3 linked regions of the Homo sapiens genome follow. The protein of the gene in region 3 purifies or fractionates together with the protein of the main gene of each other region. This does not show direct contact. Each region holds a gene or a part of one and is shown on either strand. Other genes may lie near its edges. The genes, in order: IPO9, IPO11 and ADORA3.

What was found.
Region 1: the proteins of ADORA3 (region 3) and IPO9 purify together in Homo sapiens (affinity purification with mass spectrometry, with the first as the bait; 2 studies listed by BioGRID). This does not show direct contact.
Region 2: the proteins of ADORA3 (region 3) and IPO11 purify together in Homo sapiens (affinity purification with mass spectrometry, with the first as the bait; 2 studies listed by BioGRID). This does not show direct contact.

Annotation. Positions count from the first base shown.
Region 1 is NC_000001.11:201,870,605-201,874,334, reverse strand, and holds part of IPO9 (importin-9), read right to left. Parts: coding exon 3,477-3,730; intron 3,175-3,476; coding exon 3,008-3,174; intron 1,508-3,007; coding exon 1,374-1,507; intron 86-1,373; coding exon 1-85. UniProt on the Homo sapiens protein: Nuclear transport receptor that mediates nuclear import of proteins, such as histones, proteasome and actin. Serves as receptor for nuclear localization signals (NLS) in cargo substrates.
Region 2 is NC_000005.10:62,489,146-62,492,875, reverse strand, and holds part of IPO11 (importin-11), read right to left. Parts: intron 3,575-3,730; coding exon 3,527-3,574; intron 2,762-3,526; coding exon 2,656-2,761; intron 1-2,655. UniProt on the Homo sapiens protein: Functions in nuclear protein import as nuclear transport receptor. Serves as receptor for nuclear localization signals (NLS) in cargo substrates.
Region 3 is NC_000001.11:111,500,834-111,504,912, forward strand, and holds the start of ADORA3 (adenosine receptor A3), read right to left. Parts: upstream 2,801-4,079; 5' UTR 2,522-2,800; coding exon 2,172-2,521; intron 1-2,171. Other genes in the region: TMIGD3 (transmembrane and immunoglobulin domain containing 3), read right to left, coding at 2,172-2,521.

The sequences.
Region 1 (3,730 bases), about 90 Mb from region 3:
TTAGCCTCCATGACGTTGGAGAGCTCGTTGATGATCAGCTTTAGGATCTTGACCAGCAAAGGAATGTTTGTCCAGCGTTCTGGGTCTGGGAAGGAAGAAAAAGGTTTCAAGTCAGAGTGTCACTGAGCTTACTTCTGGAAGTACCCCTGTCCTCTCCTCAGTGCCACTCACCAGAGTTCACCACCCCTCAGACTTTCACTGTACCTGACTATATCCAGTCTCCAAAGAGTGACTTAAAGTTAAATAACTTTATTGTTTGGTATTGTAACAGTTCAGAAGCTGGGAGAGATGAGAGTTCAGGGATTAAAGGAGATACAGTCTTGTTAGTAATAAAGCTCTGAAACCAAGGAACTGTATAGAGCCAGTACTCCAGTCCCAATGACTTAGAATTTGAGAGACAGCGGAGGTAATTATAAATCTACATTAAAGATAGCAGCTCTATACTCCCTACCTGCAAATCATTGGAGTTACAGGCCAAAGGCAACTCAGTAACAAAGACATGCTGACTATCTGTGCCCACGCTTCTGAATGAAGCTGGAAGCTGGGATGCTTGGTGCCTGAGACTATTTTTGTCTTTTTTTTTTCTTCAGACAGAGTTTTGCTCTTATTGCCCAGGCTGGAGTGCAATGGCGTGATCTTGGCTCACTGCAACCTCCACCTCCCGGGTTCAAGCGATTCTCCTGCCTCAGCCTCCCGAGTAGCTGGGATTACAGGCATGCGCCACCATGCCTGGCTAACTTTGTATTTTTGGTAGAGACGGGGTTTCTCTATGTTGGTCAGGCTGGTCTCGAACTCCCGGCCTCAGGCGATCCACCCACCTCGGCCTCCCAAAGTGCTGGGATTACAGGTGTGAGCCACCACGCCTGCATTTTTTTTTTTTTTTTTTTTTTGAGACGGAGTCTCATTTTGTTGTCCAGGCTGGAATGCAGTGGCACGATCTTTGCTCACCGCAACCTCTGCCTCCCAGGTTCAAGCGATTCTCCTGCCTCAGCCTCCCAAGTAGCTGGGATTACAGGCGCCCACCACCATGCCTGGCTAATTTTTGTATTTTTAGTAAAGACGGGATTTCACCATGTTGGTCAGGCTAGTCTCAAACTCCTGACTTCAAGTGATCCATCCGCTCTGGCCTCCCACCAAGTGCTGGGATTACAGGCGTGAGCCACCATGCCCGGCCTATTTTTGTCCATTTTCCACAACAGGAAGAAACCGTATGTTCTGATCCCTTTTACCTAAGTTTCCTGCTTCTTCTTTATCAAACCCATCACCAACAATTGTTTTAAAAATATACACCACAGTGCATTCCTTCCCTTCACCCAGGTATCCTTAGCCCCTTCGTATAGGGAGAGGATTGGAAGAATCGCAGCAGCACCCACTTTTGGCTGACTTAGAGCGGGTGCGGATGCCCTCATCCATGCTGTAGATCTCCTCTCCCTTCACACGGATATCCTGTAGCCGTTTGTCATCTGCATTGATGCCATGCTGGAGCAGCTTACAGAGTGCCACAGAGCTGGCAAGGAAGATCCAAAAAAAGGTCAATCAGCCGCCCATCTCGAGTTCACTCCAAGGAGATAAGCAATTATGTCCTAAGACCCTCTATTTGATAGTGAAAATTCCGTTAACAACTAATTAGGAGAGCTAAGAGAGTTCAGCTGAAAATGAGATTTTAGAGTTCATGAGGTGGTTTAATGAGATCTGTGCTTTTTTGTTGTTGTTGTTGTTGTTGTTGTTTTTGAGATAGGGTCTCATTCTGTCACCCAGGCTGAGTGCAGTGGTGTGATCATGGTTCACTGCAGCCTTGACCTCCCTGGGTTCAGGTGATCCTCCCACCTCAGCCTCCCAAGTAGCTGGGACTATAGGCATGCGCCACCGTGCCTGGCTAATTTTTGTATTTTTTTGGTAGACACAGGTTTCACCATGTTGCCCGGGTGGGTCTCAAGCAATTCGCCCACCTCAGTCTTCCAAAGTGCCGGGATTACAGGTGACCTGTTCTTCTTGAACAAAGCTAAGGTTGCACCATATTGTAAGGTGCAACGAGGTGATAAGAATCAGTGGTATAAAAATCCAGGATAAAAAGTTAGGAAGCCAGGGTTAGAAGGTTGGGTTTTTTATTTTTATTTTTCTGAGACAATTTCGCTCGTCGCCCAGGCTGAAGTGCAATGGCGTGATCTGCCTCCTTGGTTCAAGCGATTCTCCTGCCTTAGCCTCCCGAGTAGCTGGGATTACAGGCACCCACAACCACATCCAGCTATTTTTTGTATTTATAGTAGAGACAGTGTTTCACCATGTTTGCCAGGCTGGTCTTGAACTCCTGACCTCCGGTGATCTGCTCGCCTCAGCCTCCTAAAGTGCTGGGATTATAGGTGTGAGCCACTGTGCCTGGCCAAGGCTTGGGCTTATAAAGGAAAATAAGCCACTAGCAGCACTTAGCTGTGTGAAGTCTGTGGTAGAGAAGGGATCTCTTGTAAACAGAGACCAGAAATATATAGTCTACCTGTGTTGACTGTCTTTTGGGGATTTCAAGATGGCAGCTATTCACATATGTGCGTTAGCAATAAAGAAAGACAGGGAAAAGGGAATACAGAGAGCCATTTGAAATGTCAAACAAAAATCAATGGAGCAAATCAGGAAAAAAAAGAAATATGTGTCAGGAGCAGTGGCTCACACCTGTAATCCCAGCACTGTGGGAGGCCGAAGTGGGTGGATCACTTGAGGTCAGGAGTTCAAGACCAGCCTGGCCAACATGGTGAAACCCTCTCTCTACTAAAAACACACACACAAAGAATTCACTGGGTATGGTGGTGCATGTGTGTAATATTCGGACGGCTGAGGCAGGAGCAGGAGAATTGCTTGAACCTAGGAGGTGGAGGTTGCAGTGAGCCAAGATTGTGCCACTGCACTCCAGCCTGGGCGACAGAGCGAGACTGTCTCAAAAAAAAAAAAAAAAAAAAAAAAAAAAAAGAAATATGAGTGGTGGCAGAATGCCCAGAAAAGAAAGATGAGGTTCTACCTGACTTTGCCTTCATACTGTCCATAGAACAGGTGCTGTCGGCTTGTCCACTCAGCCATCACAAACTCTAGAGCAGGTTTGCCAGTAGGTCCTGGGAGGCTACACAGGAACTCCAAGAGAGGTTCTAGCTGAGTGTGCACCAGATGAGCGAACACCATGATCAGGGACTAGGAGAAAATAAGGACATTTGCTTCAGGGAAATCAATTTCAGAGACATAGGAGATGAGAGGGAACTGGCCAGTCAGATAAGAAATACAGTCTACACTGAGGGTATTATCCACAGGACAAGAAAACATGGGAGATTTCCTTGTCCATGTTTCTTAGGCCAAACAGATCAGACAGGTCCCATTTTACTTAACTGTCCTACAAGGCTAGTAAGAGGGTAAAATAAAATAACTCAGGACCAAAATACGAATTTTCATTTCTATCAGCCAGGGAGTAGGAAGCCCACTCCCCACTGCTCTCTTACCTGCATGACACTGAGCGTCTCTGCCTGCTGCATCTTACTGAGGATGGCACGAAGAATCTGGTCTAGATTCTCCCCGAGTTCCCGCCCTGCCTTGGAGATGAGGGTGGAAACAAGGCGGCCCACAAAGGCCGCAGTGAACTCTGAGGTGCGGGGGTCCAGGAGCTGGCTCACCACTTGCATCACATACCACAGTCCATTGTGGCCCTGCTCATCATGCCACTGGGCTACTTGTTCCAGGGTCACTGACACATAGG
Region 2 (3,730 bases), on a different chromosome or scaffold from region 3:
CACACAGGAAAAAACTGCTCATTAAAGTTGCAAAAACTGGGCCGGGTGCAGTGGCTTACACCTGTAATCCCAGCATTTGGGAGGCTGAGGTGGGCAGATGGCTTGAGCTCAGGAGTTTGAGACCAGCCTGGCCAATATGATAAAACCCTACCAAAACTACACAAAAATAGCTGGGCATGGTGGCACACATCGTGGTCCCAGCTGCTCAGGAGGCAGAGGTGGGAGGATCACTTGAGCCCAGGAAGCAGAGATTGCAGTGGGCCAACATCATGGCACTGCACTCTAGCCTGGGTGACAAAGTGAGACCCCATCTCAAAAATTAAATAACATAAATAAAGTTACAAAAAAAAGTATGTAAGTATTCCCTGCCCCCAAGAAGTTTATAACACACCTAAAGGAATTTAAAAACACAAAGTAGTGTACTAGGACTTTAGAAAAGGAAGAGAAGAAATGGGCAGAGACAGACGGAATCTGAGCAAGTCTTTGAGATAAACAATATTGGAGCCAAAGGGTGGAAAAATGTCATTTCAAGGGACAGAAACTGTTTGAACCAAGTGACAGAGGCAGAAGTAACAACTTGTGTAGAGTGAGGTAAAAGCACCAAAGAACCATCAATTTTGGGACTAAGACCATATTAGACTCTGTTCCAGATAAAGAATATGAAACTCAGAAAGGTAAAATTCCAAACTCATAGACACATCCAAACAGAAGTAAAAGTATAGATCACTTTGCTATTTAATGTGTGCATTGCTTGATTTTTCCCAGACCTACTAAGTCAAAACCTAAACTTTAACAAGATTACCAGGTGACTCATATGTACATTAAAGTTTGAGAAACACTGGTCTACATCAGCTTTGTCCATTAGAAATATAATGCAGGCCACATATGTTATTTTAATTTTTTAGTACCCACATTATAAGAGAAAAGAAACAAAATCTTATTCTTTGGGAGGCCAAGGCGGGCAGATCACGAGGTCAGGAGATCGAGATCATCCTGGCTAACACAGTGAAACCTCGTCTCTACTAAAAAAAAATACAAAAAAATTAGCCGGGCATGGTGGCGGGCACCTGTAGTCCCAGCTACTGGGGAGGCTGAGGCAGGAGAACGGCATGAACCCGGGAGGCAGAGCTTGCAGTGAGTCGAGATCGCGCCACTGCACTACAGCCTGGGCAACAGAGCAAGACTCCATCTCAAAAAAAAAAAAAAAAACTTATTAATATTTTTACATATCCCAATATATCCAAAATATCATTTCAACATGTAATCAATAAATATTTTACATGGCTTTAAATTTTAAATTTAAATTAATTAAAATTGGAAAGTTGTTGCCTCAGTTGCACTAAGCACATTTCAAGTGCTCAATAGCTACACGTAGGGAGCTTCTGCACTGGACAGTGAAGGTCTTACACTAAATAGCCTCTAGGGTTTAAGGACAACTAAACTGCACATTTGTTTCGCCAATGAAAGCTTTCTCTCCATCAAAGGCTCACTAGCTCCCTGAGACTAAGTCAGAGTCTATTTTATTTAACACCGCCTATAGGACATGGCAAATTCCAAGTGTTAAAAATATATGTTAACTGAATAAATGATTGAATAACTGAAGAGATAAACAGCTACTTACTGTTAAGAATTACTTTTAGAGTATCTCCAGCTCTACAAATTCTGTGGCTCTAAATGTGACCTATGCATTCATTAGTTTAGTCAACAAATATTAACTATCTATGACTATATGCTAAGTATTCTGATAGGCCCCAGGTATACTGAAGTGAATCAGTAGAAGTGTATCCTTCAAATTAAGAAAAAAGCCCCTTAGAATTTTTTCAAATTCTCCAATTTTAAACTAAGAAATAATTTTATAAACTATGAAAGAGGTTTTTCCTTTCATTTTATGCATTCAATACCTAAAATTTAAGTAGACAAGTGCTTAAATGTATATAAAACGTAAGAATTGGGCTGGCCAGGTGTGGTGGCATGCGCCTGTAATCCCTGCTACTCAGGAGACTGAGGCACAAGAATCGCTTGGACCTGGGAGGTGGAGGTTGCAGTGAGCTGAGATTGCACCACTGCACTCCAGGCTGGGTGACAAAATGAGACTATTTCAAAAAAAATAGAATTGGGCAAATGTGCTATTAAATGTACTAAATTAATTCATTTCATAATTCATATTACTAAATGTAATATGAATCTGTACTATTTAATTAGGTACCTCAATTAGAACTTAGAAAGGGTATTCAAATATTTTTGCCATGATGTCTCTATATCCTACTCTACCGTCTCCCCAGAGACTTGCAGTATGCATTATGTGATCCCAAGACATTCATCTTTCACAGATGTTACTTTGATTAGGCTACTTCTGACACTAGGCATACATCCTGCTAAGTTTCGAACTGTCTTTTTCTTAGGCATAGTTTCTTGAACTCAGAGACCTCCATCCTCCCTCATCTTTGCATAAAGTCCTCCTTTTCTCCTGCAAACTACCTGATATATCAAATACTTCCTAGATGTCAAAATTCTTATTCCTTTCCACATAAGACATTACCTAACTTATACGATTGCATTTTTTAAATTGTAAGCCATTTTAATGCCTTCCTGTCTTCATTAATAAAATAAATAAGGTAAAGTAAGTGTATAATAAATATAAAATTTTATACTTGCCTATTGTGAATGACTTGTAATTCTGGAAGAAGCTGGTTTTTAAACCACTGATCAAAATCAACACTGTCAAAGAGCTCATAAGCAGCTAATCCAACAGCATTATACACTGAGAAGAAAATTTAAGAAAAAAAATTAAAGGTTTCAGATATCAGATCTGCAAATGAGTGTATGAAACATATGTTAATTAAAGGAAACACACAATATGCTAATCAGGGAAATTATTTAAGTAGAAATAATTTAAGTAGAAGAAATAATTTATTTTAGAAACACTATTTTACTTCATGTTTTTCCTAAATATTCCTTACTACTTTCAAACAGATAATTCAATTCATTCTAAAATATTTAAGTCCAACTATAAAAATTATAAAATAATGCCTGCTTCTAAAATGGATGTAATATTTTATGATCTGGTCCCTACTTAACTCTCTCCAGCCTCAACTCAACCTTTAACCCCAATGTTCCAGTTAAACCAAAATAGTCACAATTCAAATTCTAACTGTGCTTCCTCCTCTTTCCTTCAAGTCTTTGTACTTATTGCTCCATCTCCCTGGAATGCAACACCCTCTTTCCATCACCACCTCCTCACACGTGTAACTCCTACTTATCCTTGTGTTCTTCCATTACACTTCTTTGGGAATCTTTCCTTAGACACACCAAACTATCTGGTGATCATCACCTACTTTAGCATTAACTATCCTGTATAGTATTATTATAATACATTATCTGTTTACTTGGTTATCTCCCCAATCAGATTGTTCCTGTATTTTAGTTACTCTTGTATCTCAACACCCTCAGCACAAAATCTACCACAAAACAGACTCTCCATCTACTGAATAAATAAATGCTTCTAAATCACTTAAGTTTAACATACCAGCATCTTTGATTAACAGTGCATTCATATCTTCCACATTTGTGGGTCCTAAAAAATATATATATAAATAGGTATCAGTAAAAGCAAATAAAACTAGTTTTTTAAAAAATTTATATTTAAACACAATTTGTTAGTTTCCCAATTCAATTAAGTATAACACATTTCATGGTGTCAAAAATGGACACAAGTACAAAGGGAAAGTCT
Region 3 (4,079 bases):
GATGTTGCCTAGAGTCAAGTGCTTACGTGCTCCACTCAGGGCTCCACTTACTGAGAGCTATACAACTGTTACCTATCTTTTCTTTTTCTTTTTTTTTTTAACTCAAAAACATCCACAGGTGAATTCAGCAGTTTAAGTCCCCCTTGAACTCAGTTTACTCCTTCTGTTCCCAATAAGGTGTAAGCCTAAGAATTATTCAGTTCCTGGGAGCTGAGATTCATCTAAGTCTCCTAGGATTGTCTGCCTGGTGAGAAATGATATTCTCAAAGCAAGCTTGCCTGCTGTTCTTGGCACTGTTCTGTTTGGCTGTTGTGCAGATTCTCATAAATTATACTATGCCTCCCCGACACTTCCCCTCTACCTGTGCCTGCTCCTGCTTCTCTATCTTCATGGGCATCCATACTTGGTATTTGAGTTAAATGAATCAATGAAGTTACAAAATTGTATTGAAGTGTTTCAGAGACCTTAAAGGACAGTAAGAGTAAGAGTCCCCATTGCTCCTTAAACTGTCCTTCCTGACAGCAGCCTATACAGACCACAAAAAGGAAACAAATATAGTTAAGTATCAGTAGATTTTTATCTCAATTAAATCTCACAACAAACAGGAGATATTTTATTATAACCTCAATTTTATTGATGGCAATTGTGAAAATAATAGTAATGATAGCCACCATTTATTGAGCACAGACTGTGTGACAGGTATGTTTCTAAAAGCTTTACATATGTTAACGCATTTCATTTTATGAGGATAGTGCAATTATCCCCATTTTGTAGATTAAAAAGTGAAACACAAACAAGTAACTTCTACAAGTTAGAAGTGGTGGGGCTAAAACTAAAACAAGGTAAGTCTGAGTTCCGAGCATCGTAACCACTGTGATACAGAGTGGAAACCAAAGGAGATAAAGTTAAACAACTTGTTCAAGATCAGATCTCTAATCTGGGATTTGAACCTAGACTGTCTACATCTAAAGCTTGTTTGTAGCTCCCTCACTCTGCTCTTTCCTCCAGAGAAGTGACGAGAAACACGAGACCAATGCAATTTAGGTCACCCGGGGAAGTAGATTTCTCCATTTGGCAGTTCGTTCTATTCATATGGTCACATGTAATGAAGAATATTTTTACGAAAAAAGCTCTCACATCTCAGGAGGAGGAGGAAAAATATACATATATATAGGATATATATATTTATTATATTATATATAGGATATATATTTAATATAATAAATATATAGGATATATATATTATAATAAATATATATAGGAGATATATATTTAATATAATAAATATATAGGATATATATTTAATATAATAAATATATAGGATATATATTTATTATAATAAATATATAGGATATATATATTATAATAAATATATAGGATATATATTTATTATAATGAATATATAGGATATATTTATTATAATAAATATATAGGATATATATTCATTATAATAAATATATAGGATATATATTCATTATAATGAATATATATAGGATACATATATTTATTATAATGAATATATATAGGATACATATATTTATTATAATGAATATATATAGGATACATATATTTATTATAGTGAATATATATAGGATACATATATTTATTATAATGAATATATATAGGATACATATATTTATTATAATAAATATATATATATTGGAATATATATATATTCCAAGAATCCCTTTCTCAACATTGAAGTAGGCACAGAATAGGAAGCAAAGATAAAATAATAACCTACATTTGCAAAACAACAGAACCATCAGTTTATCTCCTCTTATGTTTATCTGCCTGCTTCTCCTAAAATAATAAGTCTTATCTAGTAGGCTTTTATCATTTCTAAAACTGAAGAGCATTTTTTACTAATTAAAGATGCATCAAGATTTCATCATTTTTAGCCAAGGATTAGTAATTACAGCTGGAGGGATTGAGCACCCACCCCTAGTCAGTGGAGAAAGGATTGGAGCATTCCTCTGATTCTAGCTCCTGAGTCCCAGCCCATTGTTGCTAACCCCCTCACAGACCATATCACAAAAAGACACTTATTGCCCTCTTTCAACATCAAGGGCCAATTTGGATACATTTTTACTCAAAAAGTCTGGGCTCTGGGCTTTGTAGCCTCATTTCCCAGCTGCCTCAATTGCTGCCCACCCCACGCCGCAGGCTACCTGACGGTAAGCTTGACCCGCAAGTATCGGTCCACAGCGATGGCCAGCAAGGACATGATGGAGGCGTGGGTAAAGATAAGCAGTAGGCAAGTCATAAAAAGGCAGCTGTAGAAGTGGATTGTGATGCCCAGGCTGACAACAATGGCCAAAGGCATGACCAGCACCCCAACAGCAATGTCAGCCAGGGCTAGAGAGACAATGAAATAGAAGGTGGTGGTCTGCAGGCTGGGGTTCAGCTTGACCACGCAGATGACCAGCACGTTGCCCACTATGGCGCAGAGTCCAATGAAAATTTCCATGGTGATGTAGGTAACATTGGCCAATGACAGAGCAGTGCTGTTGTTGGGCATCTTGCCTTCCCAGGGGAACCTCCACAGGGACAGGTGAGCCAGCAAGATCCGTCTGTAGGGCCAGTGGGCCTAGCTCTCGCCAGACGTCTTCCCAGAGGTCCATGTGCAGTGACAGTCTAAAATTCCCAACTTGCTCATTCCTACCCTTTTCTGGTGGGGTGATCTCTTGGAAACCCTTCTCCTTAGAAAGGGCTCATCACAGGTGGGTCACTTCCAGCCCCTTTATGCACCGCACATCCTCAAGTTTCCAGAATGCTGTAGGACAGCTCTATATGGACTGAATCTGAAAGTGCTGCTGCTCTTAGTTCCCCAAACAGATGTCCTCAACGCCTCTGCCTGCAGCTTTTTGGCTTTTTGAGTTCCATCAAGATAAGCAACCCTCTTCAGGGGTGTTTCAGGAAGTGAGATGGGCCAAGAGGAAGTACAGAGCTCAGAACTCTCAGCAAAAAGATGGAAAGAGCAGAAGAGGAGCCATGAGTGGCATAGAGAAGGCTCGAGACAAGATTGGGTATCAGAGTTCATTCATTCAGGGACCAGAGGACAGTGCAGGATCAGGTGGGAGCAGAGCTGGAAGCACTGACTATGCAATCTTTCTGCCAGCTTAGCAAAAAGATCTCATGATAAGGAGGCAAACGGGAGAAGCAGAGGAACAAAAAAGAGACTTTGGTGGCAGCCTCCTAACCTTAGCCAGAACTATTCCTGCTAAGTTCTTGCACGAGTTGACGCTTTGCTGAGCACAGCCGATACCCAGCCTTTGCAGCAAAGATCCTTGGTCAAAGGGATAAGCAAAGATTCCCTGCTCAGAAGGGCAAAAACTCAGCACCTCTGAGAAGCATCACACCTGCTTAGCCTCCACCTCTCTTTCTCAGCTCACACCCTAGCAAAATCACACTGGCACTTATGCTGGCAGCCGGCCAATGTCCAACCTATGTGAGGAACGACAGAATAGCAGAATGACCAGACATACAGAAAGAAGGGAAAAGAACGTGTGCAACAGAATCAAATGGCATATCCTCCTGCCCACATTCCCCAAGCCTCAGCCCCATCCCCGCAGGAACAGGCGACTGTCTGGGAATCAGCCCCCTCTCCCTGAAGCTGCTTACCTAGTCACCAACTTCTGGGAACCAGACACTTGCACGCCATTGTTATTTGGGGACCCACTTGGTTCAGGTGCTTCTCAGCACCATCCAAAGGGATTATTTTAACCAGGCGTGTTAGAGAGGCAGCAAGAAGGAACACTTGGACCCAAACCCACACAGTGGCTTGAGGGCTTTATCATTTTTACCTTAAGCATCTAAATATGTACAGCCCAAAATAAAATTCAGCAGTAACAACAATGGCGTTCTGGTGTTTACTAACAAACACTTCAGAGTGGGGCATAAGGGAGACGCCTCTGCCTGGGGCTCATCAGGGTCCTCTTGTTAGTTGATCTGCTCTGGCATCATTCATTGATTCCACTCCCGACCCCCACCCTGTATCCCAAGTTGATCCAAGTCTTACCAAATCCCATACTTGTCCCCGCCAGACTTGTCATTTCTCCCTGAGCAGACTCCCCAGA